Linked DNA regions of Homo sapiens. The protein of the gene in region 2 purifies or fractionates together with the protein of the main gene of each other region. This does not show direct contact. Each region holds a gene or a part of one and is shown on either strand. Other genes may lie near its edges. The genes, in order: RBM17, ZRSR2, SERPINB8 and CHERP.

Evidence for each region.
Region 1: the proteins of ZRSR2 (region 2) and RBM17 purify together in Homo sapiens (affinity purification with mass spectrometry; 4 studies listed by BioGRID and IntAct, with this or other methods). This does not show direct contact.
Region 3: the proteins of ZRSR2 (region 2) and SERPINB8 purify together in Homo sapiens (affinity purification with mass spectrometry; 3 studies listed by BioGRID and IntAct, with this or other methods). This does not show direct contact.
Region 4: the proteins of ZRSR2 (region 2) and CHERP purify together in Homo sapiens (affinity purification with mass spectrometry; 3 studies listed by BioGRID and IntAct, with this or other methods). This does not show direct contact.

Annotation. Positions count from the first base shown.
Region 1 is NC_000010.11:6,113,013-6,117,958, forward strand, and holds the end of RBM17 (splicing factor 45), read left to right. Parts: intron 1-495; coding exon 496-569; intron 570-1,036; coding exon 1,037-1,135; intron 1,136-2,226; coding exon 2,227-2,299; intron 2,300-2,440; coding exon 2,441-2,544; 3' UTR 2,545-4,435; downstream 4,436-4,946. UniProt on the Homo sapiens protein: Splice factor that binds to the single-stranded 3'AG at the exon/intron border and promotes its utilization in the second catalytic step. Involved in the regulation of alternative splicing and the utilization of cryptic splice sites.
Region 2 is NC_000023.11:15,793,481-15,800,512, forward strand, and holds part of ZRSR2 (U2 small nuclear ribonucleoprotein auxiliary factor 35 kDa subunit-related protein 2), read left to right. Parts: exon of another isoform or gene 1-2,569; coding exon of another isoform or gene 2,570-2,770; intron 2,771-6,391; coding exon 6,392-6,473; intron 6,474-7,032. UniProt on the Homo sapiens protein: Pre-mRNA-binding protein required for splicing of both U2- and U12-type introns. Selectively interacts with the 3'-splice site of U2- and U12-type pre-mRNAs and promotes different steps in U2 and U12 intron splicing.
Region 3 is NC_000018.10:63,980,056-63,987,087, forward strand, and holds part of SERPINB8 (serpin B8), read left to right. Parts: intron 1-1,665; coding exon 1,666-1,783; intron 1,784-3,523; coding exon 3,524-3,666; intron 3,667-5,037; coding exon 5,038-5,190; intron 5,191-6,202; coding exon of another isoform or gene 6,203-6,211; exon of another isoform or gene 6,212-6,595; intron 6,596-6,818; coding exon 6,819-7,032. UniProt on the Homo sapiens protein: Has an important role in epithelial desmosome-mediated cell-cell adhesion.
Region 4 is NC_000019.10:16,532,416-16,539,447, reverse strand, and holds part of CHERP (calcium homeostasis endoplasmic reticulum protein), read left to right. Parts: intron 1-3,811; coding exon 3,812-3,996; intron 3,997-6,299; coding exon 6,300-6,437; intron 6,438-6,698; coding exon 6,699-6,850; intron 6,851-7,032. UniProt on the Homo sapiens protein: Involved in calcium homeostasis, growth and proliferation.

The DNA.
Region 1 (4,946 bases), on a different chromosome or scaffold from region 2:
AACTTTTCTGGCAGCCCCGTTCATGCACAGCTTAGGATACATCACGAGCCTGACAGGTGAGTGCCAGAAACCAACAGTTGTCCCGACTTGTGAGGTTATCTGAAGTAAGGCAGCCGGTGGCTGGATTAGTAACTGCATATTCCCCTGGGCCCGTGACCTTGAACGTTTGCTCCAAGTCAACTCACCTATAGGAATTATCACTCACATGCCCTGTCAGCCCTTTGGGAAGTGAGATGAGCAAAAATTGCAAGTAATGGTGGAGGCTCAAAACATCCAGATGCTATTGTAAAAACATGCCAAAGCAAAGCAGAGGCTTTTATTGCAGATAAGGCTGTGTTTTCGCTCAGAGACCAATTGTGTAGATGCCTAGGACATAAATGGTGGGGATCGCTATTGAAATTAAATTAATTATTGTAAGTAGGACTCAGTTCTGTAACACATCTAATGATATGCTGCTCAGTTCTGTAACACATCTAATGGTATGTTTTGATACAGATGCATCCAAGAAGTCAGATTCAAATCCGCTGACTGAAATACTTAAGTGTCCTACTAAAGTGGTCTTACTAAGGGTAAGAAGCTGAGGAAAGCAAGCTCTCTGCCTGCCTAGATTTGTGTGTGTCACCCCAGCCTACCCTGCTCCCCCTAAAAGTTAAAACTGAAAATGATACTTTTGCAAATAATACTTTGGGCAGATCCCACGTAAGGCTGATTTTAGATTTTTCACTAATGTGTAAGTCTCTTTGCTAAGTACAGTGTTTAAGACTGCAGTGAGTAATTAAATATTTGAAATTGCTAGAGCTTCAGATAGTTTATACATTTTGGTGCTTGCATAGATGCTTTTGTAACTCTTTACAGGCTTAATATATGTTTTAGTGTTTTAAGAAATACTAACTTTTGGGTACTTTGGGGATGAAATTTTTCATTATGTCGTTTGGGATTGAGAACATTTACCATCACTAAGTCATATTTATATACCTCTGCTAGGTGTTTGTAAGTTATACTTGGTACTTGAATTTGTTTATTTTTGTGTTTAAAGAACATGGTTGGTGCGGGAGAGGTGGATGAAGACTTGGAAGTTGAAACCAAGGAAGAATGTGAAAAATATGGCAAAGTTGGAAAATGTGTGATATTTGAAGTAAGAGTGTTTTCTTTTGATGTTTATAACACAAGTTGTAATTGGCACATTACAAAACATTTTCTACAAACAGGACAGGGTATGCTATAAGTAACATTCTTACTGCAGAAGGTGACAGGCGTTGGTTATTTGTACTTCTCTTGCTCAATTATTACAGTTTTAAACATAAAGACAATGATTTCAAGTTTTATTTGATGAAGAAACAGGAATGCTTCATGATTGAGGATCAGTATGATGACTGAAGACCTTGATTCTAGCGTGCTCAGTAGTTTAGTTCCTTAGACATGCCTTTGGTTTCAGTCATTTGGTGAGTATTTAGTGCCTCTCACATGCACTGCACTGTGCGGAGAGCACTTGGATTACAGGAAGCATGCTCTGTACTCTCAGTGGTGTGTTCAGTTGAAGAAACACATAAAATAACTGAAAGATATTCAGTTACTAGACTAGGTAGTATTGACTAAGTTCAGGAGTTGAGAAAAGGATTAGATCAGTGAAAAAATAGACTGCCTTGTGAGCAATAGCAGATATGGGCTGCGCTTTGAAACGAACAGGTGGGATTTGCAGGGAAGGGTATTCTGATTGGGATAATGGCTCGTAGGAGACAGTGAAGATCAGGACTACCAAAATGGAATGGATGGGCCTGTTGGGGATTAGCAGAAGTGCTTAGGTGGGTGGAATTACAGAGGGCTAGGAAAGCTAGACAGAGCTAGTCAAAATGAGACCTGATGTGAAAGGCCACTAGGGCACCAGCCTTTTTAATCTGAAAGCTCTGCTTCCTCTGTTTCTTTATCCTGTTGCTGTTTGTTGACCACATAATTATTTGTTTACGTCATCAGCTGGCACAGGGCCTTTATGAGGTCAGAGACTGCCTAGCCCTGTGTTCCTGGCACCTAACAATGCCTGTCATAAAAACAGGCATTCAGTACGTTTTTGATGATGAACAAATTATACTTATTTCCTTGGTATTTGACAACTACTTGACTGTATATGATGATAATTAGAATATCCACTCTGAGAAATCATTTAAAAGAGAAAACTCATTCAATGCAATCTCAAATGCCTTTACTCATCACGCTCTCATTTTCTTCCAGATTCCTGGTGCCCCTGATGATGAAGCAGTACGGATATTTTTAGAATTTGAGAGAGTTGAATCAGCAATTAAAGGTTAGTGGTACAGCTAAATATTAAAGAATAAAAAAGTTGAATTTACAGCCTTAATCTTTACAAGTAAAGTTACTGTTTAATTAAAGTTAAACCTTTATCTTATAGGATACCTGTATTAACTGTCTTTTGTTTGCCTTTCAGCGGTTGTTGACTTGAATGGGAGGTATTTTGGTGGACGGGTGGTAAAAGCATGTTTCTACAATTTGGACAAATTCAGGGTCTTGGATTTGGCAGAACAAGTTTGATTTTAAGAACTAGAGCACGAGTCATCTCCGGTGATCCTTAAATGAACTGCAGGCTGAGAAAAGAAGGAAAAAGGTCACAGCCTCCATGGCTGTTGCATACCAAGACTCTTGGAAGGACTTCTAAGATATATGTTGATTGATCCCTTTTTTATTTTGTGGTTTTTTAATATAGTATAAAAATCCTTTTAAAAAAACAACAATCTGTGTGCCTCTCTGGTTGTTTCTCTTTTTTATTATTACTCCTGAGTTGATGACATTTTTTGTTAGATTTCATGGTAATTCTCAAGTGCTTCAATGATGCAGCATTTCTTGCACTAAAAAAAAAAAAAAAAAAAAAACTAGAAAGTTTTGGGACATGGGGTTATATTAAATTATTCTTTGTTTTTCTTTTTCTTTTAATAAAGCCTGCAAGTTACTAAATTGTAGTTTCATAAATTCTGTAGTAAAGTATCATCTTGGCAGTGTGCCAAAGGTGAAAATGATGCTTTCTCTAACAGAGAAATTCTTAGTGACTCCAGTCGTAGAAAAACGTCTTTACAACCTGAATAAGATTGAAGAATTGTGAACATACCATGGCCTATTGGATGAATCATTTGCCGTAGGCTAAATCAGACTGTAGGGTTTGTGATGGATTTATGGAGTATGTGGGTATAGAAATCATGAATCTAGCATTTGTTTTCAGAGATTCAAGCATAGTCTTAAGGGTAGATCAGAAATGACAAATGAATTCAAAACCTAGCAGGTGCATTGTAAATGTGTGCCCAGTTATGTTTTGGAAATGGCAGTTCCTTGGGGTCATGTTTCTACTGGCAAAATTTGCAATAGTGTTCTATTGTATGTAATTTTAAAATTTATAAGATTATCCACGTTGGCCAAGTAAACTGTACTGCCAATAGAATTCTGGAATTGTGAGAAATTGTATCATTGAAGTTCAGTAGGATGTGTGGCTTAAAAATTTATCAGGACCACAAAAAAGAAAACAAAAATATTTGGTACTGAGGTTCATTGCCAGGGCAGGAGGTATTTCCAGAAAATACTCATGCCTGTGTTCTGTTCCTTGCTTTCCCAAATACTGCATGTGACTTTCCTAAGCGGCAGCTGAAAGACTCGAGCCCGTGCTGTCTCCTTTGGTTATTATGACATGAAAGTGTATCAAGAACTCAGCATTTCTTTGCATCCATGGACTTGGTTTGGAGACATAAGGAATATTCTGACCCTTTTTAAAAAAGGATTTTCTCATGTTTTTATTTAACATAAATAAAAGAATAACATTTTATCTTTTGTGGTATTATTTTATTGAATAAAATTGAGTTTTATGATAAAAGTGCACCTGTTCTGTAAAGTAAGTTGGGGTTAAGGAATGTGAGGTAAATTACATAATTGAACATTGTGGAAGACAGAATCAAAAGCAGCCCTGGAACTTCAGTTATCTATGGAATTAGGCATACCATTCCTCAAGTGGAAACCATGTTTGTGCTTACAAGTACCGGAGTGTGCTTGTTTAATTTTAGAAACTAATGGTTCCAACCCACCTTTCATGCATGCATTTATTGTTGTTATGCTTTGTAAAACATTGTTTGCACCTAAATGGGTGGCTTTTCCTAACATTCTCATGGTCAGCAACCAGAGAGTTGCAACCAACTCATACTACTTGATTTCCGTTCGCATGAGGACAGCTTGGTGTGTGCCTTTCTCCCCAGTCTTTTATTTTTAAAATAACTGTGTTAATCAGTTAGTGCTTTATTTATAATGAATTTCTGATAGTCGAATAATTTCTAAATCTCCTGCAAGTTAGTACTTGAGAAATTTGAAATTAATTTTCAATATTAACATTTAAGCTAATATAAAAATTTTAAATTTCAATAAAAATTAAAAATTATGTAAGCTACAATGTAACTGGCAAGTTTCCGTGTAATAGACGTTTGTCATTCTTGGTGGCCCATCTGTGAGTTTTTGAAACCCCTTTTTCTTTTTTTTTCTTTTTTTTTTGAGACGGAGTCTTGCTCTGTCGCCCAGGCTGGAGTGCAGTGGCATGATCTGGGCTCACTGCAACCTCCGCCTTCTGGGTTCACGCCATTCTTCTGCCTCAGCCTCCCAAGTAGCTGGGACTACAGGCGCCCGCCACCACGCCCGGCTAATTTTTTGTATTTTTAATAGAGACGGGGTTTCTCCGTGTTAGCCAGGATGGTCTTGATCTCCTGACCCGTGATCCGCCTCAGCCTCCCCAAGTGCTGGGATTACAGGTGTGAGCCACCGAGCCCAGCCTGAAACGCCTTTTTCTGTGTGGGGAACTTCCTTGTTTCCCTCCTCCCCGCAAGAGACTAGAAACTTGCTTTCCCAGCCTGTCTTGCAGGTTGAGTAGGGTTGTGCGCTTGGGATCTCTGATCAGACCGGCACCGCAG
Region 2 (7,032 bases):
CTCCAACTCACAATTCTTTGCCTAGTGGTACTTCATGAATACTGTAGACTATGGAACACTCCTGGTTTTTTTTTTTGAGACAGAGTCTCACTCTCTCGCCCAGGCTGGAGTGCAATGGCACGATCTAGGCTCACTGTAACCTCTGCCTCCCAGGTTCAAGTGATTCTTCTGCCTCAGCCTCCTGAGTAGCTGGGATTACAGGTACCCACTATCATGCCCGGCTAATTCTTGTACTTTTGTAGAGATGGGGTTTCACCATGTTGGCCAGGCTGGTCTCAAACTCCTGATCTCAGGTGATCTGCCCACCTTGGCCTCCCAAAGTGCTGGGATTACAGGCGTGAGCCACTGCGCCCGGCCAGGAACACTGCTGTTTATTGTAGCACACGTTAGATGGGTAAACATTACCCAGAAGGCTAGAATGTTGAGTGTAACTATGAGAGTGCCTTGGCAAATGATTGGAGTGCCTTGGCAAATGATTTCTGGAATAGTGAGCTCTTAATTACAGATAGCTTCTTTGGCATCCATTCTACTTCAGATAACTGGAAACAAGCTACCTCGTCAGAAATTAAGATATTAAAAGCAAGTTGCAAAACTATAGCATGATTCTGTGTGTACAGTTACATGTACAGGTTGAGTATCCCTTATCTGAAATGCTTGCGTTGTATTTACCAGTTCAGCATCCCAAATCCAAAGATCCAAAATTCGAAATGCTCCAATGAGCATTTCCTTTGAGCATTGTTGTCACTCAAAATATTTCTCATTTTTGGATTTGGGGTGCTCAACCTGTATAATACCATTGGATATACATTTGATCCTTGAACAATGTGGGAGTTAGGGGACTCTGACCGCCCCCCGCCCCTCCCCACAGTGGAAAATTTGCATATAACTTTTCACTCCCCCAAAACTTACTATTAAGTGCCTGCTGTTGACTCTAAGCCTTACCAATAACATAAACAGTTGATTAACACATACTTTGTATGTTATATGTATTATATACCATATTCTTATAATAAAGTAAGCTAGAGAAAAGAATGTTACTAAGAAAATCCCGAGGAGGAGAAAATATATTTGCCCTTCATTAAATGGAAGTGGTTCATCATAAAGGTCTTCATTCTCCTTGTCTTAATGTTGAGTAGGCCGAGGAGGAAGAGGATGATTTGGTCTTGCTCTCTTGGGTGGCAGAGGTGGAAGAGGTGGAGGAGGTAGAAGGGAAGGCAAGAGGGTAGACGGCACTTGGTGTAACTTTGCAGAAATACATTATAATTTCTGTCTGACATTTTTGCTTTTTCATTTCTCTAAAAATGTTTCTATACAGTACCAATTCTTCCACCACTTGCTTTAGTTTAAATGCATTAGTTTTCAGTATAGAAGGGTCCATAAAAGAAGTCAAAAGCAGTCTTGAATAATTGGCCCTTCTGCCAGATTGTCTAGTGTCAATTTGTTTTCTGGCACTGCTTCACCTCAGTTTTCTTCCTCATCACCTTGCACTGGTTTGGAAGGACTCATCCCCATCAAATTGGCTTTTGTTAACTACTCTGGTGTGTCTGTTAGCTCTTGAATTTCTTCAAGATATCTTGAGACCCTTCACCCCGACCCCCCTGCACTTTTCCCCCCCCCCCATATTTACAATCTCTTTCACGATTTCCTTGATTGGCTCTGTCTTAAGTCCAATGATGCCATGCACAATATCTGGACACATTTTTTTCTCCAGCAGGACTTTGTTTTGGGCTTGATGATTTTCATGGCTTTTTCTATAACAACAATAGCATCTTCAATGGTATAATCTTTACACACTTTCTTGATACTCTCTGTATTAGGGTTCTCTCCCATAGCATTGACAATCCTTTCCGTAGAGTACCACGTGTAATGAGCTTTAGAGGTTCTTACGACCCCCTGGTCTAGAGGCTGAATTAGAAACATTGTGTTTGGGGGCAAGTAGACCACTTTGACACCTTCAGTGTTGAACTCATGGGGTTCTGGGTGGCCAGGGGCATTGTCCAATATTAAAATAATTTTAAAATCCAGTTCCTTATTGGCAAGGTACTTCCTGACTTCAGGGACAAAGCATCAGTGGAACCAATTCAGAAAAAAGGATTTCCATTGTCCAGGCCTTCTAGTTGTACAACCAAAAGACAGGCAGCTGGTGCTGATCTTTTCCCTTCAAGGATTGGGGGTGGGGGTTAGCAGCTTTATAGATAAGGGCAGTTCTGATCATAAACCCCACTACGTTTTCATGAAACAGTAGAGTTAGCCTGTCTCTTTTTGTTTTCAATCCTGCTGCTTGCTTCTCTTCCTACTAAATGTCCTTTGTGGTGTTTTTCTAGAATAGGATACTTTCATCTGCATTAAAAACCTGTTCAGGCCAGGCGCAGTGGCTCACGCCTGGAGTCCTAGCACTTTGGGAGGCCAAGGCGGGTGGATCACGAGGTCGGGACTTCGAGGGCAGCCTGGCCAACATGGTGAAACCCTGTCTCTGCTAAAAATACAAAAAGTAGCTGGGCGTCCTATTCACGCAGATATCCTTTCTCCTCAGTGATTTTCTTTTTTGTTTTTTGTTTTTTTTTTTGAGATGGAGTCTTGCTCTGTCGCCCAGGCTGGAGTGCAGTGGCATGAACTCGGCTCACTGCAACCTCCGCCTCCCGGGTTGAAGCAATTCTCCTGCCTCAGCCTCCAGAGTAGTTGGGATTACAGACACGCACCACCGCGCCCGGCCATCATGACTTTTCTCTGCTTCTTGAGAGCACTTCCAGCATCGCTAGTCGCACTTTGTGTGAGTCTCATGATGTTATTCAAGGTTTACCATTTTGTAGTAAACACAGTGAAAAATACGCCAGAGATCACTTCTTACTGCCATACACAATTTACTGAAGAGATGAACTGCTCATGCAGAGATGAGTAGTGTCACAAGGTGTTTTAAGTGAATACTCATAGTATTTGAGCTCACTGCAATAGCAGCAGGAGGTGGCTATGAAATTATTGCAGTAGTGCAGTGTGTACTACAGTTAATTTTTTTCTTCCTTCTGTACCTCATTGGATGCGTTTTTTTCCTTGTTTTGTACTACAGTTAATTTCATGCAGTTATGATTTAATACTGCATATTTATGTTTGTTTACATTTTTCTCAACTGTGAATGTGCCATATATGGTCTATAAATATAAGTTTTGATAAATTTTAACTTTAAAAAAAGTTGTCAATGATTATGTTGTAGCACAACTTTTATAGTAATATTCAAGGAAAAATGTTTGAGACCGAACTTCTCTGTCTTAGAATGGAATGAAGTCAGAGATCATTTTGTTTCAAATCGTTTTTTTTTTTTTTTTTTTTTTTTTTTGAGACAGAGTCTCGCTCTGTCGCCCAGGCTAGGGTGCAGTGGTGCAATTTCGGCTCACTGCAACCTCTGCTTCCCAGTTTCAAGCAATTCTCCTGCCTCAGCTTCCTGAGTAGCTGGGATTACAGGCGTGCACCACCACACCTGGCTAATTTTTTTATTTTTAGTAGAGATGGGGTTTCGCCATGTTGGCCAGGCTGGTCTCGATCTCCTGACCTCAAGTAATCCGTCCACCTCGGCCTCCGAAAGTGCTAGGATTACAGGCATGAGCCACCGCTCCCTGGCCTGTTTCAAATGCTTTAAGCAAGGAAACAATAAAACACTTAACTTATATTGTAACAGTATCTGTATATGTGCTGCTCAAGCCAGCACAATATTGCTTAACAGTATCTGCATTAACTTTTTTTTTTTTTTTTTTTGAGACGGTGTTTTGCTCTTGTTTCCCAGGCTGGAGTGCAGTGGCGCGATCTTGACTCACTGCAACCTCCACCTCCCGGGTTCAAGCAATTCTCCTCCCTCAGCCTCCCGAGTAGCTGGGATTACGGGGGGCTGCCACCACGCCCGGCTAATTTTTGTATTTTTAGTAGAGATGGGGTTCACCATGTTGGCCAGGCTGGTCTCGAACTCCTGACCTCAGGTGATCCGCCCGCCTTGGCCTCCCAAAGTGCTGGGATTCCAGGCATGAGCCACCACGCCCAGCTCTGCATTAACGTTTTATAATAGATTTATATTTATGGTAGCAAATGATAAAATAGACTAGTATGTACATATATTTTATGCATTCATGACATACCTTTTTCTTAATTTTTTTCAGTGTTTCTAGGCCATGCCACTTACCTATTTTTTTTTTCAAATTGTTGCAAATATCCCCTAAATGTTCCAGTGTGTTTACTGAAAAAAAATCTGTATTTAAATAGACCAAGGTGGTTCAAACCTGTGTTGTTCAAGGGTCAGCTGTATTGTATGTATATGTATTGCATATGTCCGATTGTACACGTGGGGAAAATGCTGTACCCAGAACTGTTAGCAATCACTTCTGTGGAGTATATGAGCTTGGTTTCGAGGTGATGGGGAGTTGAGTGAGTCAGTCAACAGGTGTTTGTGAGTGTCAGCTGTGTCTATGCCCTGTCTAATCTATGGCATACCTCTGCAAGTAGTCAGGCCATATCCTCTGTGCCAGGTTCTCTGGCGCTTTAAGTACATTAGATCATTTAATTATCTGAACAATTAGATACTATTTTATATGATTGAGAACTTATTCTACATTTGTTGCCCATTTTAATTCCAGCTGCTGAAATAATAAAGTTTACTTACTTAAGAAAAGTAAATTATTGTAATTATCTAAGACTGGATGAGCCTTCAGTTAGAACTGTACTCAACACATGTGACAAACAGACTCTTTTTTCTTTAAGCCTGACATCTGTAACATTTCTTTAAGATTATTTCAGTCTTCCATTTCTCTTCCACTTTCACTGATTTTTTTCCCAAATTTTGAATGGGAGAGGATGTAAATGTCTATTCTATTAAAAGTTGTTTTTTCATGTTTTTATTTGGGAAATGTTCTAATCTACAGAAAGTTGAAAAAAAGAGCACAATAAATATCCATGAACCCTTCAGCAAGATTTGCCAGTTGTTAAAGTTTGGCCTTTCTTTCTTTTTCTCTATTTAAAGAGATACATACATAGAACATTTTTTCTGAACCTTTTGGATGGCAGTTGCAGATAGCAGCACCTCACCCCTAAATTCTTCAGCTTGCAACTCCTAAGAATAAGGACATTCTCCCGCAGAACCACAATACCAAACTTGCACCTGAGTACATGAGCAAGTAATTCAATGGTATCATATACAGGCCATATTTAAACTTCCCCAAACCAGGATTGATTGTTTTGAAAAACTCAAGCCAGTTATCTTGTGGAATGCCCTGTATTCTGGATTGTTCTGTCTTCTCATGATTAACTTCAGGTAACAACACTCTTTAGAACAAAGGATTACAGAGCAGATGTTGTAAACTTCTTATTGCATACATCATGAGACCTTTCACATCAGGTTGTTGCACTCCCGGTGATGCTAACTGTGGTTAAGGTGTTACCCACCCAGGGCCGGACATGCTGGCTCATGCCTGTAATCCCAGCACTTTGGGAGGCCGAGGCAGGCGGATCACGAGGTCAGGAGATTGAGACCATCCTGGCCAATGTGGTGAAACCCCGTCTCCACTAAAAATACAAAAATTAGCTGGGCATGGTGGCGCGCGCCTGTAGTCCCAGCTACTTGGGAAGCTGAGGCAGGAGAATCGCTTGAACCCAGGAGGCGGAGGTTGCAGTGAGCCAAGATCGCGCCATTGCACTCCAGCCTGGCGACAGAGCAAGACTCCCGTCTCAAAAAAAAAAAAAAAAAGTGTCCAGATCGCTCCATTGGAAAGCATTGCATTTTTTCTTTTCTAATTAGTCCTCATGTCTGGGGTGATATGTTGAGATAGTGTGAATATACTCTTCCTAGCAAGCTTTCATTCGATGTTTTTAATGTCTTTGTCTAAATTTTTACAGTGGGGGTTGCAAAAGTGATGATTTTTCTACTTAAGTTTTTCTCCATTTTTTAGTTACCATTCTTCTGTGAAGATGGATGTTCCCTTCCACACCCCCACCACCTTTTTTTTTTTTTTTTTTGAGATGGAGTTTCACTCTTGTCGCCCAGGCTGTAGTGCAATGGCACGATCTTGGCTCACTGAAACCTCCACCTCCTGGGTTCAAGTGATTCTCCTGCCTCAGCTTCCCGAGTAGCTGGGATTACAGGTGCCTGCCACCATGCCAAGCTAATTTCCTTTTTAAGTATAATTGTGGAACCATTGATTAATTTTTAAATGTAATGTGCTATCTGCCACCCCTATTGTCCTTTTTGATGCTTGTGTTGTACCAAAGAAGGTTGATCAGAGACCTTTTTGTTAGAAAGTTTAAGAAAAAGATTTTTACCATAATTTTATACATTAAAGATTACATGTATTTTTTTCCTGAATTTTTGACCAAGGATTTGCAGCACTCAGTTTAATAAAACATTTAAATTCCCTAGGACTCTCACAGAAGGAGGAAGAGGAGGACACTTTTATTGAAGAACAACAACTAGAAGAAGAGAAGCTATTGGAAAGAGAGAGGTCAGTGCTAATTGAAACACTTAAAGTGAATGAAGTTATTTTATTGGAATATTATCAACCTTTACTAACCAGTACCAGTCTTCTGTATAAAATCTTGTACCAAATAGGTCTTATAAAATATCCTGTATAAAGTATTTAAATCTGTAGTTGATGGGCTAAAACTAGATGTTATTTTTTTTAAAAATGGAAGTACTTTTCTTCTGTTTTTGCTAATTTATAATTTTTTTTCTTTCTTTTTTTTTTTTTTTTTTTTAGACGGAGTCTCGCTCTGTTGCCAGGCTGGAGTGCAGTGGCATGATCTCAGCTCACTGCAATCTCCGCCTCCCGGGTTCAAGCGATTCTCCTGCCTCAGCCTTCCGAGTAGCTGGGACAACAGGTGTGCACCACCACACCCAGCTAATTTTTGTATTTTTAGTAGAGACAGGGTTTCACCATGTCGGCCAGGGTGGTCTTGATCTCTTGTGATCAAGTGATCCGCCTGCCTCAGCCTCCCAAAGTGCTGGGATTATAGGCATGAGCCACTGCGCCTGACCTGTAATTGTTTTTGAAAACAGAAAAA
Region 3 (7,032 bases), on a different chromosome or scaffold from region 2:
ATTACAATTTTAGATTTTATGATGACTTCTGAATTACGTCCTTTGTAAATTGTTACTGATACACCCATCCCTGTTATCAATCCCAATATGTCAATTCTCCTGCACGCAGCCCTGCTTCTCCCCCTTAATTCCCTGTCCCTGAGTGACCACATCATTCAACACGCTGTACAGAGCTCCTCCCCAGTCCCAAGTGTGGTTATTCGGCTGCCTCCTGCTGAGGTAGCCTCTCAAATTCTCTTAAATTTGCCCGCCCTCTTCTGAATTGCACCTACAACTGACACAATCGTCTTTCTAAAATGAAAATCTGTTCATAAAATTGAGGTTTTAAATCTAAGCAGTTTCTATTTACTTCAGCATATAATTCCAAGGTTCCCTAGTCCAGCCTGGCATAATGCAATCAGTGAGGTTCAAAAATCATGCCACCTGATATGCAGGGTGATGTTGTCTTAAAATTAGTGAACTGATTGCAGCAAGCTTGGCCATCCTATTGGCTGGAGGTTCTGAGAGGACTCCTCTAAGGCTCAAATACATCCCTGTCCTGGTAGCTGCTGGGTGCTGTTCCCGGAATTTGCCTGCTCTGGGTTTATCTACCTCAGAAGGTGACTCTGGATCCCAGGAATCTCCTGATGAATCCATTTCATTTTTGAACATCAGCCTGATCTACTACTGTTGTAATACTTGGGACACAGGGAGCCAACCTCTACTTTTCCTGGTGGCTTGGCTCCTCCTTCCCTCTATATCCTCTTTCTTTGGCTGAAATTAAAATATTTGAGAACAGGGAATGGACAGAGGCTGGGAGCCAGTTTCCAGGCCTATTATATCCAAAGCCAGGTTTTTGTGAGGTAAGTTATCTGGGTTTTAATGTGTTGGGTACAGGACTTTTCTGATTGGACCCCAACTTACATTTCAAGGCTCTTCCCCTGCCACTGTTTCCCTTAATCCCCTCCCTGATACACACAAACACACATACACATGTACACACACACACAAACATGCATGCAATCCACACACATGCAGGTGCCCAAGCACTCACATGTACACATGTGCACTCATGCACACAGATGTTCACACGCATGCACACGTATGAACCCAGTTGCACACACACCCTATGATCCAGGCCTATCACGCTCCATTCCCATGGGGCCTTCCTTGCTCTGTATTCTTCCAACCAACCATATGACCCAGATCTAAAATGCTATTTCCTTCTTTGCAGTTCAACACGATTTCTTAACAATCTAGTTCCCTTATAAAGCCTCTCGTTTAACCAAAACCACAATACTGTAGTTGGTGCTGGTGATGCAAAATGAGTAAAAGTGTGTTAGACTGCCTAGTGAGGGAAGCAATATTAAAGTCAGTGGAGAGCGTTTGACAAGGATGCTCCTGTGATGTTTTGTGGATAGTGGCAGCTCATGATGTCCTGTAAGTGTCTGGGTGTCTCAGCTGCCTCTTCTCAGGCTGTGGACCTCCTCAAGCCAAGCACCTTGCCCAGTACCAGGCAAGAATAGGTGGCCCATACATTTTTGTTAATTGCACGCATGCACCTTGAAGTGGAGTGTGACCTGTCCAAGCACTTATTGTAGAAATGCAGTAAGAGAAAACAAAATGCTTTTGCATTTGTGGGAACCTTTACCAAATGAGACTAAACTCAGTGTTTTGTGTTTGCAGGACTTTAAAGAATACTGTCAGAAGTTCTATCAGGCAGAGCTGGAGGAGTTGTCCTTTGCTGAAGACACTGAAGAGTGCAGGAAGCATATAAATGACTGGGTGGCAGAGAAGACTGAAGGTGAGACAGTTTCATTTCTGTTGATTTGGAATTACTATACAACGAGGCTTAGATTGACTGGGATGGGACTTCCCAGGGTGTTGCCACTGTGACCTGCATACCACAGGCCTGTTTGTATGTGTTTGCTGAGTTTACAGGCCAGCAATGCAACTCTGTCATTTCTTATCAGATCATGAAGTACTGATTTCTAAAACTAATGTTGAATCTCTGACCTCCTCCCCTGTGGACCGTGCTGGAAAATCCCTGGAAAATGGCTCCTCCTTGGAATTCTGTTAATCTTCTATCTGAGAGGCCCTTCCATGCTCGGAGACAGAATGGCATTCAATTAAGTTGCGGCTTAGAGAGGGCAACATTTCATGCTCTCATGTTATCTCCTCCGCGTGGTAATGGGACAGCTCAGTAGTTTGATCTGCAGCCTTCTCCTTCCTTTTTAACTTGGCCATGGCTACATTTGCTCTCAGAGTGTGGCCTTTTCTGAATTTGTTCCCTATTCTGGAGGTGCAGCGACATGGAGCCTGCAGTGTTCCCTGCCCAGACCACATTCCATCCCACCAGAAATATTTCTGCCAGTTCTTTACTTCAGTAGGAAAAAGGGGGAGTCATACTTTAAAGCATCCTAAATACCTAACAAGTAATTTCGATACTTGTAAACGGTGGAGGAATTAAGTCACTTATTTCAAGGGCCAACCTAGCACTCATTATTGCATCCATTCCATCCTATGTCGCAACCACTGTGTGTCCAGCAGAAGTAATGCCCCTGATTCTACTGAAAGCCAATACAATAATTACCATGGGAAGGGAAGAGCCTTTTGTGTTTTCATACATCATCTGCCTAGTGGTCTTTCCAGTTGTTCAACAGTACTGTCACCTGAGGAACCTAGAAGTTTCTCCACACCTTCCCCCCACTGCCCTATACCTGTCACTGCTCTTCCAGGGCTGCTTATGCCCTTCCTTCCCTTAGGCTGACCACCCACATTTCCCCCAGAATATTAGAGCTGAAGGGGACCTTGGAGATGACCTTGTTACCCTCTCATTGGACAACTCAATTTGGGCCCCTCTATTCTACCCCCCTAATTCCTTTGCCCCATTCACCCCCTTCAGAGAGGCTGCCTTCTCCCATTGACAGATCTGTGTTCTCTCATCCTTTGGAAAGCTTTCCTTGTCTGATGAGGTTTGAATATATGCATAGAGCAATGATCCTCAACCAGGGGTAGCTTTGCCCTCCAGGTGCCATTGGATAATGGCTGAAGACAATCTTGGTTGTCAAAATGGGAAGAAATGCTGCTGGCTAAACATCCTACAATGCACAAGACAGCCCCCATAACAAAGAATTATCTGGCTTAAAATGACAATAGCGGTGAGGCTTGGATATGATAGTGCCAAGGTTGACTGCCCCATAGTCAGAATCAAGACTCTGGGGTGATGTTCTCAACTCAGCCACTTGTCACCTGTGTGCACTCAGCAAAAGTCTGGCAAATGCTCTGGTCCTGAATTTCTACATCCATAAATTGAGGGCAAAATGATAGTTGCCCTTCCTACTTCAAGATTTTTTTCTTAAGCACAAATGTTACACTGTGTATGCCACACTGCTAAACACCATCGCCTAATTCATCAGGGGCCCAGAAAGACAGAACTCCAGCCTGTCTCTCAACCAAGCCTCTGCCTTATGTGTCAAAGGGATTTTTGTAAAAGAATGCTTATTTCCCCACAAATTGCAATAAACTCTCATATTCTTTATAGGTAAGATTTCAGAGGTACTGGATGCTGGGACAGTCGATCCCCTGACAAAGCTGGTCCTTGTGAATGCCATTTATTTCAAGGGAAAGTGGAATGAGCAATTTGACAGAAAGTACACAAGGGGAATGCTCTTTAAAACCAACGAGGTAGGGAAAGATTTTTCAGATATACTGCTACTTTCTTAAAGTAATATTACAGGAAATATTCTCTTGGAAAAATGAATAATTTATTTGACATGATCTTGATTTTAATCTATTTCTGAATTATATTATATTATTTTATTTTCTTTGAGACAGGGTCTCTTTTTGTCACCCAGGCTGGAGTGCAGTGGTGTAATCTCAGCTCACTGCAGCCTCGACCTCCCAGGCTCAAATGATTCCCCAACCTTAGCTTCCCAAGTAGCTGTGACTACAGGTGCACACCACCAGGCCTGGCTAATTTTTGTATTTTTTGTAGAGATAAGGTTTTGTCATATTGCCCAGGTTGGTCTCAAACTCCTGGCCTCAAGTGATACACCTGCCTTATCCTCCCAAAGTTCTGGAATTACAGGCAGGAGCCACTGTGCCTGGCTTCTTTTCTGAATGAATTTAATGCCTCCTGTGTATCTTTAATGGCGGAAGGAAGAGAGAAACAAAAATAATTTTGGTATTGATAGTTTTGTTTTTCCATCTTTGATCAAATCTACCTTCCATCTCTGGTCATATGATTTGGATTGGAGGAGAATTTCTTCTAAGCCTTGGAATTATGTTTGCATGATGCTATTACTCTCTGTATTTAGTTAGATACCTTTTTGCAATATCAGTGGCAACTATGCCTATTTATTGCCTTAAAAGTCAAAGTTATACAATCCTGAGCACAAGAAAAAAAAGTTAGCAGATGTAAAGCCTAACTTTACCTTCCCTTTTGAATATTAAAATGGCTGGTATCAATAGTTGTTAGCTTGGGATTTGACATCCATCAAATATGATACTCTCATATTGCACAAAGATATGAAAGTTAAAAATATATTTGATGCAGGCTTTAAAAACAGCAGACCTTACACATCTCTTCAAGGTCCCCTTCCTAAGAAAGCCAAGGCCATAAAACCAATTCTACAACAAGGCAACTTTCCAGAGTTTGGACCGTACATCTTTTCTAACCAGATCCTTCAGCCCAAGGGCCTGAATATTTATCTTAACTTCGATAAAGAATTTTTAGTTGGAAGCTTCCATGAGAAAGCTTCTCTGTGAATGTTCTCAAAAAAGCAAACACAGCTTCTTCCAAGGATAATGTCAATTTTTGTGTCCTTCTCCATTTACCAAACTGTTTTTTTTTTCTCACCTGGTAATATTTGATCTGCTGGAACAATAGCTTGTTCTATTCAATACTAAGATGTACTAATGAAGATTTTATATCTATCAGCATAAATGTGCAGAAACAGTAATTATACACACCTAGAGTTTCTGTGAGTTAGATATATCCTATTTTTAGTAAATTATACCCACTTTTCAGTAATCGAACTTTAATTTTTCCGTTAGGAAAAAAAGACAGTGCAGATGATGTTTAAGGAAGCTAAGTTTAAAATGGGGTATGCGGATGAGGTACACACCCAGGTCCTGGAGCTGCCCTATGTGGAAGAGGAGCTGAGCATGGTCATTCTGCTTCCCGATGACAACACGGACCTCGCCGTGGTAAGCTCCAGGCAATGAGCCTGAGTATCTGTGGAGTCCAGCTGAGCTCATTTCTTTATGTTCATCTACCAATTGGCATTTGAGGAGTTTCCAGTTGGGGTTATTACAGGCAGTGCTGGGTGAACATCATTGTGTGTCTTTTGATGAACATGTTCATGCATTTCTGTTGAGTGTATACATATATGAGTGGACAAGTTTTGATGAAGCTAAGAAGAGAGAGTTCTAAATATATTATTATTTGGAATATTATTCTTTATTCTGCATGGAAGGTCTATTTGAAAGCCCAATGATTATTGCACAAAAGTCCTGGAAGAAGGGTAGGGATCAATCTTGGCAGTGATTCTCAAACACTAATGCACATATATGATTCTAGTGATCTTGTTAAAGTGCAGATTTTGATTCAATGGAGTGTGGCCTGAGATGTTGCATTTGTAACAAGATTCCAAGTGATACAGATGCTTGGAACCACACTATGAATAGCAAAAGTCTAAAGTACAGGTGGGAAATTTACCTTATACAAGAGGAGAGAAAAGTCTTACTGTGACAGAAAAGGAACAGAGTCCAGGAAGGGAAGTGGTAAACTTGCAAGGTAGGAGGTGCAAGACTAATAGTGCACTTGTAAACCAGCTCTGGGAGGTGGGAGAAGCCTTCATTTATAAAGTTTGCTGATTCTCATGACATGGTAAATACTCCCACCATGGCCGACTTTAGTCTACTGAGGGTTTAACAATTGATAGGGGTCAGCTCTGGCACACCAATGCACAGGATGTTGAGGGTGGGCTGCTTGATTTTCCTGGCTTCCCTTTGGAATCAGAAAGCTACTGCCCTAAGTCAGGGATGACATCTGTTGTGGCCACTTATGAGAAAATTAGGAGAGTCTAGAAATAGAGTCAAAATCAAAACAATGCTCGTTGGAGAGGAGTACCCACCTGGGCTCCAGTTGTTAAAGGGAAGGGGAGATGCTAGTGGAAGGCCTTTCTCCCTTTTTTCTTTCTACCTTATTGATAAATAGAAAGAGTGATGGATCTTGAAGAATTTGAAGCTAACTCCAGGACAGGCAGAGGACAAACAAGGATGCTGATGAAGTCTTCTTGCATTCCCCATTTCTCGTCTCATGCTCCCTTCTCATGCCTCCCTTCATCTTCAGATGAAACACAATTCCCTCTCTTTTACTCTGAGTTGCCCTCTGATTTAACCCTGAATAGTCCCCTCATTAGACTCAGAAGCAGAGTTCTGAGCCATGCTCTTTGTCTTTTGTCAAACAATCTCTCCCACTCACAGTAGTATGTATTGCATGAAGATTAATGTAATGAATTGGTTAGAATTTTCTAAACTGTTAAAAAATGTTTTTAACATTTGAAAGGAGTTAGGTACAAATTGTTTTTATTAAAAATTTCTGCCTGTCTCAGGTGTTTACTAGCTCTTTTACACTTGTCTCCATAAAACTGTGAAAAGATGAAAATTTGGGAGAAAATCTTGGTGTGTTTATAAAAGAAAATATCTGTAGATTTTCTTGGACCAGAACTCACCATCTAATTGCATGTCATTGGGGGAGGGGTAATAAATGGGTGTGTGGGTATCAGGCTATTGTCATCTAAATTTTAAGGTTTGAGTCTTTCTTATCCTAGGTGGAAAAAGCACTTACATATGAGAAATTCAAAGCCTGGACAAATTCAGAAAAGTTGACAAAAAGTAAGGTTCAAGTTTTCCTTCCCAGATTAAAGCTGGAGGAGAGTTATGACTTGGAGCCTTTCCTTCGAAGATTAGGAATGATCGATGCTTTTGACGAAGCCAAGGCAGACTTTTCTGGAATGTCAACTGAGAAGAATGTGCCTCTGTCCA
Region 4 (7,032 bases), on a different chromosome or scaffold from region 2:
AGGCCGGGCGCGGTGGCTCACGCCTGTAATCCCAGCACTTTGGGAGGCCGAGGCGGGCGGATCACGAGGTCAGGAGATCGAGACCATCCTGGCTAACACGGTGAAACCCCGTCTCTACTAAAAATACAAAAAATTAGCCAGGCGTGGTAGCGGGCGCCTGTAGTCCCAGCTACTTGGGAGGCTGAGGCAGGAGAATGGCGTGAACCTGGGAGGCAGAGCTTGCAGTGAGCCGAGATCGCACCACTGCACTCCAGCCTGGGCGACAGAGCGAGACTCCGTCTCAAAAAAAAAAAAAAAAAAACCGTTTCTAAAGGCAGCGGGAAGCCACAAGAGTTTTAAACAAGGGAGAGGGTGGCTTGGGTTGTGTGGCCGGTGGTGTAGGACAAGCTACAGGGACCAGCCTGGGGAGCAGTGAGGCCTGCAGGGGAGCAAACAGGGCAGTTGTTTAGGTGAGAGATGGTGGGGTCTGAATTAAGTCAGTAGGTTGAGCCTGAGGGAGGGAGCATGGGGGGCAGGTGGGGTGAAGGGGTAGAATCCATGAACTTGGGCGCCAGTTGCATATTGACGACCTGATGGTGTAATGAGCAGGGGAGGAAGACACCTCAGACGGTGCTTTGGCTTGGGTGACTGAGCTAAGGGCTGCTTTCCCTTTCTGGGGCGGGGGGGTGGCCACTTGGAAGCTGGTGCCATTATGAGGAAGGAGAGGGTGCTTATGCTTATAGCCCAGGAAGATTGAAGCCAAGAAGTGCTTTCTTTTTTTTTTGGAGATGGAGTCTTGCTCTTGTTGCCCAGGCTGGAGTACAGTGGCAAGATCTTGGCTCACTGCAACCTCTGCCTCCCAGATTCAAGCGATTCTCCTGCCTCAGCCTCCCAAGTAGCTGGGACTACAGGCGTGCGCCACCACACCCAGCTAATTTTTGTATTTTTAGTAGAGATGTGGTTTCACCATGTTGGCCAGGATGGTCTTGATCTCTTGAACTCATGATCCGCCCACCTTGGCTTCCCAAAGTGCTGGGATTACAGGCGTGAGCCATCGTACCCAGCCAAGAAGTGCTTTCTGTGGGTGATGATATCTTGGCTAGATGTAAAGGGTGTGTTGGAGTTGGCCAGGTGAAAACAAGGGGAGAAAAGTGTTCCGGGCAGAGGAAGGAGCCCTTGGAGGGAATGGGGAACCCAGAGCTTAGGGTGGCTGAAGCCCAGAGTAGGAGGGGTTCTTGGAGTGGCCAGAGGTGGGGGTGCAGAATTGGGAGCCTGGCTTGGGGAGGAGTTGGAGGCCTGGCTTGGGGAGGAGTCGGGGACCTGGCTTGGAGAGGAGTGAGGAGTGTATCCTGGAAGCGTGGGAGAGACTCGTGGAAGGTTTAGGTCTGTGTTGTGAAGCTGGGTTAGCCACAGTACAGCCAGTTCTGCACCCCACGCCTTAAAGCCTGGGCCTCAACTGTTGTAGAATGGAGCTTCACGAACTCTGTGGTGAAGGACCATTTCTGGTGTTGTGTTTTAAGTTTCTAACCTGTTGTGTGTGGACCAAAACTTCTGCAAAGCACAGTAACAATGTGGACCGTGAACCATCACGCTGCTAGAAAGGTTTTGAAATGCTCCCTTTCTGGTTCCATAACCGTCTGTCACCGCTGGGTAGCCCAGGGACCACTCCATAAGTGGCAATACCATGACTGCCATGTCAAAAAGAGGTAGAGGGATGGGACCTGATGCAGGAAGACCGGTTCTGGGGTGACGCAGGTGACAGCAGATCCATGGTGGTGACAGCGGGGACATAGACTGATTGGAGTGATGTCTCGGAGGCCGCCTTGACACTATGTGGCTCGTCACTGGGAGGCACATGCTACTTCTGGCCTGGGTTTCTGGGCAGATGGTGGTGCCAACCATGGTGCGGGGAGCACAGGAGGGGACATAGGTGTAGGGGGTGAGAGGAAACACAGGCCCCTTGGAAACACAGTGGGCCGTGCAGTTGGTGGTTAGGGCCAAAGCTCAGGAATCCAGAATGGAGATGATGGATTTAGGAATCACACCATGCACAATCGCAGCCACAGGAATGAGTAGCTCATGTTGCCCGGCGGTTGCGTAGAGCGGAGGACAGGGCTCAGAACACAGGCCGCGCACCCCAGCATGTGAGGGTCCAACGGGAGAGGGGTTGGTAAAGGGGGAGAAAGGGACTGAGGGGGCGAACACATGGAGGCCAAGGGAGGCAAGCACCTGCGACAGGCCCGGGGGGCTGAGTTGAGTGAGGGTGTCCTCAGCTGCCTGGGGGAAGGAGGGGGGTGCGGGGAGTGGCAAGCAGGCACCAGGCTGAGATAAAGGGGAGGTGAAGATCTGGAGTGAGTCTTGTCTGAGAAATCGTTTAGAGAGGGATCATGGGGTAAAGGGAGAAGTTTCCAACCCAGAATATTCTGATGTGTTTATTTATTTCCTTTTTTATTTTTTGAGATGGAGTCTCACTCTGTCACCCACACTGGAGTGCAGTGGCGCCATCTCGGCTCACTGCAACCTCCACCTTGCAAGCTCAAGCAATTCTCCTGCCTCAGCCTCTCAGGTAGCTGGGATTACAGGTGCCCGCCACCACGCCCGACTAATTTTTTGCATTTTCAGTAGAGACAGGGCCATGTTGGCCAGGCTGGTCTCGAACTCCTGACCTCAGGTGATCACCCGCCTTGTCCTCCCAAAGTGCTGGGATTATAGGCGTGAGCCATCATGCCCAGCCCAATGTGTTTAGATGCTGCTGGGGAGGGACGGGTAAAGAGGGAGGAGTTGGAGAAATAAGAGATAGAAGAAATATCAATAAGCAGTGTCCCTCAGACAGTGGGAGGGGTGGGATTCAGTGCAGAAGTTGGGGGTCATCCTGTAGGGTGGCTTTGGGTGCACAAACTGGAGGGCACAGTCAGCCCCGAGACTTGACTTGAGCGCCCAGTGAGGGGCGACACCTTCCACCTGACACCCCACCTCCCTTATCTTTGGCTTTGTCCTGGTCCCCTTGGAGTGGGGCTCTGGAGGGCTCCAGGGGTACCTGGTCACATTTAGACCAGGCGGCCCCAAGACGGAGAGAGAGGCAGGTCATCTTGTCCAGGGCCTCCTTATGAGCCGGGTCCCTTCCTCAGAGACCTCACCACCTGCCCCATCTGGCCAGAGTTGGGACCTGCGCCCACCCTGACCCAGGCTTCTGCCGGCAGAATGGGTGTCTCACTGCTGCCTCAAACTGGATGCACCCCTGAATGCAGAGGGGTCTCTGTCCCCAAGGGCTGGAGAAGCAAGGAGAGTCAGTAGAAGGACAAGGCAGGTGTGGGGGAGGCCGCAGTGTGCGCTCGGGGGTGCGGCTTCGTGCCTTTCTGGCCAGATGTGCAGAGGCCCGGTGGCTGTGACATCTTAACAGTCAATGGGTAGCTTAAGTGGCAGAGGTCAGGGAGTGGCCGAGGAGGTCGGAGGATGAGAGGTACTGAGGCCTGGGTTCTGCATCAGGTGGGGCCTAGGTGGGTGAGGAGGTGGGCAGGCAAGCTTAGCTTGCACCGGAAGGACACTGCGCAAGGACTGGATGGTGCTGGCGAGAGAGCGGCCAGGGGACTTCCTAGGTTCTCCGAGGAGGGGACGGCCCGAAGATGGAATGCTGAGGCTGGGATCCTGTGAGAGGGAGGGCAGGACCCGAGACTAGGAGGAGCTGGTTTGCGTGGGCATGAGGCTATGAACAGGCCCTCGTGGATGGTGAGTCCCTGGGGAGGGGGAGGCCCCTGTGGCTGAGAGGTGGCCAAGGGGACACCTAGACCCCCATCTGCATTCTCATGGGGCACCCCTCCTCCTCTCCCTCCAGTCATCTGCAAGCAGCAGACCCCGGAGCTGGAGCCAGCCGCCACCATGCCACCCCTGCCACAGCCCCCGCTGGCCCCCGCCGCGCCCATCCCGCCGGCCCAGGGCGCGCCATCCATGGACGAGCTCATCCAGCAGAGCCAGTGGAACCTCCAGCAGCAGGAGCAGCACTTGCTGGCGCTCAGACAGGTATGGGCCCGCCGCCTCCTCGGCCAGACACCAGCAGCTCCCCTGTGCCTCTGTTTTTGCGTCTGCTCATCAGAATGAATAACAGGTGTCAGTGAGGACAGGGCCCCCCCTGCCACCCAGGGCTCGGTGCATGTCAGCCACTGTCACCCCCAGCCCTGATGCCAGACACAGAGGCTGCTTCTCATCTCAGTGAAGCCACTGGACGTGCGTGCACCCATCACCCTGGGGTGGACCCCCCTGAGTGGGACTGTGGGGCACGTATGCACCTTGAAGCTCCCTAATGGCTGTGGCCAGGCAGCCTCTGGTGCCTACCATTGGCCCCACCACACAGTAGCTAGGTCACCTGGAGCTGTTGGTTGGGGAAGGACCCTTTTTTTTTTTTAAGTCTTGTTCTGTCGCCCAGGCTGGAGTGCAGAGGCGTGATCTCAGCTCACTGCAGCCCCTACCTCCCGAGTTCAAACGATTCTCCTGCCTCAGCCTCTGGAGTAGCTGAGATTACAGGCATGCACCACCACACCCGGCTAATTTTTCTATTTGTAGTAGAGATGGAGTTTCACCAGGTTGGCCAGGCTGGTCTCAAATTCCTGACCTCAGGTGATCCACCTGGCCAGAAGGACCCTTTTGTCCTTCCTGGTCCAACAGTTTGATAACTTTCGCCAAATAGAATACAGGTGCATTGGCTGGGTGTGGTGGCTCACACCTGTAATCCCAGCACTTTGGGAGGCTGAGATGGGCAGATCATGAGGTCAGGAGTTCGAGGCTAGCCTGGTCAACATGATGAAACCCTGTCTCTATGAAAAATACAAAAATTAGCTGGGCGTGGTGGTGCACGCCTGTAATCCCAGCTACTTGGGAGGCTGAGGCAGGAGAATTGCTTCAACCTGGGAGGAAAAGGTTGCATGAGCTGAGATTGCACCACTGCACTCCAGCCTGGGTGACTGAGCAAGACTCAGTCTCAGAAAAAATAAATAAATAAAATACTACAAGTGCATTGCCAGAAAAATGAGAGGAATAGAATACCAAACCTCCAAAACACCAACCCCACGCTCAGTACTAGGTTCAGGGCATAAAATCACACTGTCATATTGCTCTCAGAAAATTCCAGCTGGGCACAGTGGCTCAGCCTATAATCCCAGCACTCTGGGAGGCCAAGGCAGGCGGATCACAGGGTCAGGAGTTTGAGACCAGCATGGCCAATATGGTGAAACCCTGTCTCTAGTAAAAAATACAAAAATTAGCTGGGTGCAGTGACAGGTGTCTGTAGTCCCAGCTACGCGGGAGACTGAGGCAGAATTGCTTGAACCCGGGAAGTGGCGGTTGCAGTGAGCTGAGATTATGCCATTGCACTTCAGCCTGGGCGACAGAGCGAGATTCCATCTCAAAAAAAAAAAAAAGAAAAGAAAAGAAAGTTCCAGAATGCTCACCCTCAGCTTCTGTTCATCATGGAGTGGGAGGCCTGCCTTGACCAGCCGTAACTGACCGCTGGTCCGCATGGCAGCTCTGTTTTTACCAGTCGCACTTTAACCGGTGTTTCCTCTTGAGGAATGAGATTGCCCCCTTCTTGCTTCACTAGAGGCCATGGGTGTATCCTCTTCTTCTATTGCCTGTCGTTCACACCATGCCTCATTTGTCTTTTTTTTTCTTTTCTTTTCTTTTTGTTGTTGTTGTTGTTGTTGTTTTGTTGTTGTTAGAGACAAGGTCTTGCTGTGTCACTCAGGCTGGAGTGCAGTGGTACAGTCACAGCTCACTGTTTAACTTTGAACTCCTGGGTTCCAGCAATCCTTCCGCCTCAGCCTCCCAAGTAGTTGGGAACACAGGCACACACTACCATGCTCAACTAATTTGTATTTTATTTTTTGTAGAGATGAGGTTTCGCTACGTTGCCCAGGTGGTCTGGAGCTCCTGGGCTCAAGCGATCCTCCCGCCTCAGCCTCCCAAAGTGCTGGGATTACAGGCATGAGCCACCGCGCCCCGCCTTTGTTTTTTGTTGAGTTGGTTTGCAGAGGTTGTTTGTTCCTCTGGGCTGCAGTGTTTTCCTTGGTTACCTGGAGGGCAGGTGTTGTCTCCTGGTATGTCCTGTCAGTGCCCTGCCCACTCCAGGAGGGACTGTCACAGATTCACGGCAGGCATGAGAGACAGAATCTCCTCCTGCTGGGGACAAGCAAGGGAGCTGATGGCCAGAGCAGCCCAGAGTCCGGGCATCGCCACCATGTCCCCACCCCGCCCCTGCTGAGCCAGGCCGGAGGGCTCAGGCTGCGGGTCCCTCCTCATGTGTTCTCGACCCCACCGACCCCCGCCCGCAGGAGCAAGTGACAGCGGCCGTGGCCCACGCGGTGGAGCAGCAGATGCAGAAGCTTCTGGAGGAGACCCAGCTAGACATGAACGAGTTTGACAACCTCCTGCAGCCCATCATCGACACGTGCACCAAGGACGCCATCTCGGTGAGGGGCCAGCACTTCCCAGAGCCCAGCTTTCCCTTGGTCCCTCCCTGAGGCAGGGCCTGTCGTAGCCAATCTGGGCTAAGGGCTGTTACAATGGGTGCCCTTCCCTCCCGCCTGGAGCTCCTGAGGCTGTGGGACCCTGTGCCCCCCACGCTCATGGTGTGTCCTTCCCTGAGCTGATGGTGACGCGCTCTCAGGGATGCAGTGGGTGCCTGGGGGAGCCGCGGCCCTGCTCACTCGTCATTGGCTCGGTTGTTGCAGGCCGGGAAGAACTGGATGTTCAGCAATGCCAAGTCCCCGCCGCACTGTGAGCTGATGGCCGGCCACCTCCGGAACCGCATCACGGCTGATGGGGCACACTTCGAGCTGCGGCTGCACCTCATCTACCTGATCAATGACGTGCTGCACCACTGGTGAGCGCCGCCACCCCGTGCCCAGAGCGCCACTTCCTCGCGCTCCTCCTCAACCCTCCTGGGTGGCCGCTTGCTCCGGTCGGTAGCTTGGCTTGGCCTGTCCCGAGACTAGGGGGCACTTGTCCGGGGACCCCGGGTGGGGGGTCTCTGTGAGCCACCAGGCTTCTGTCTCCAGGACTGCG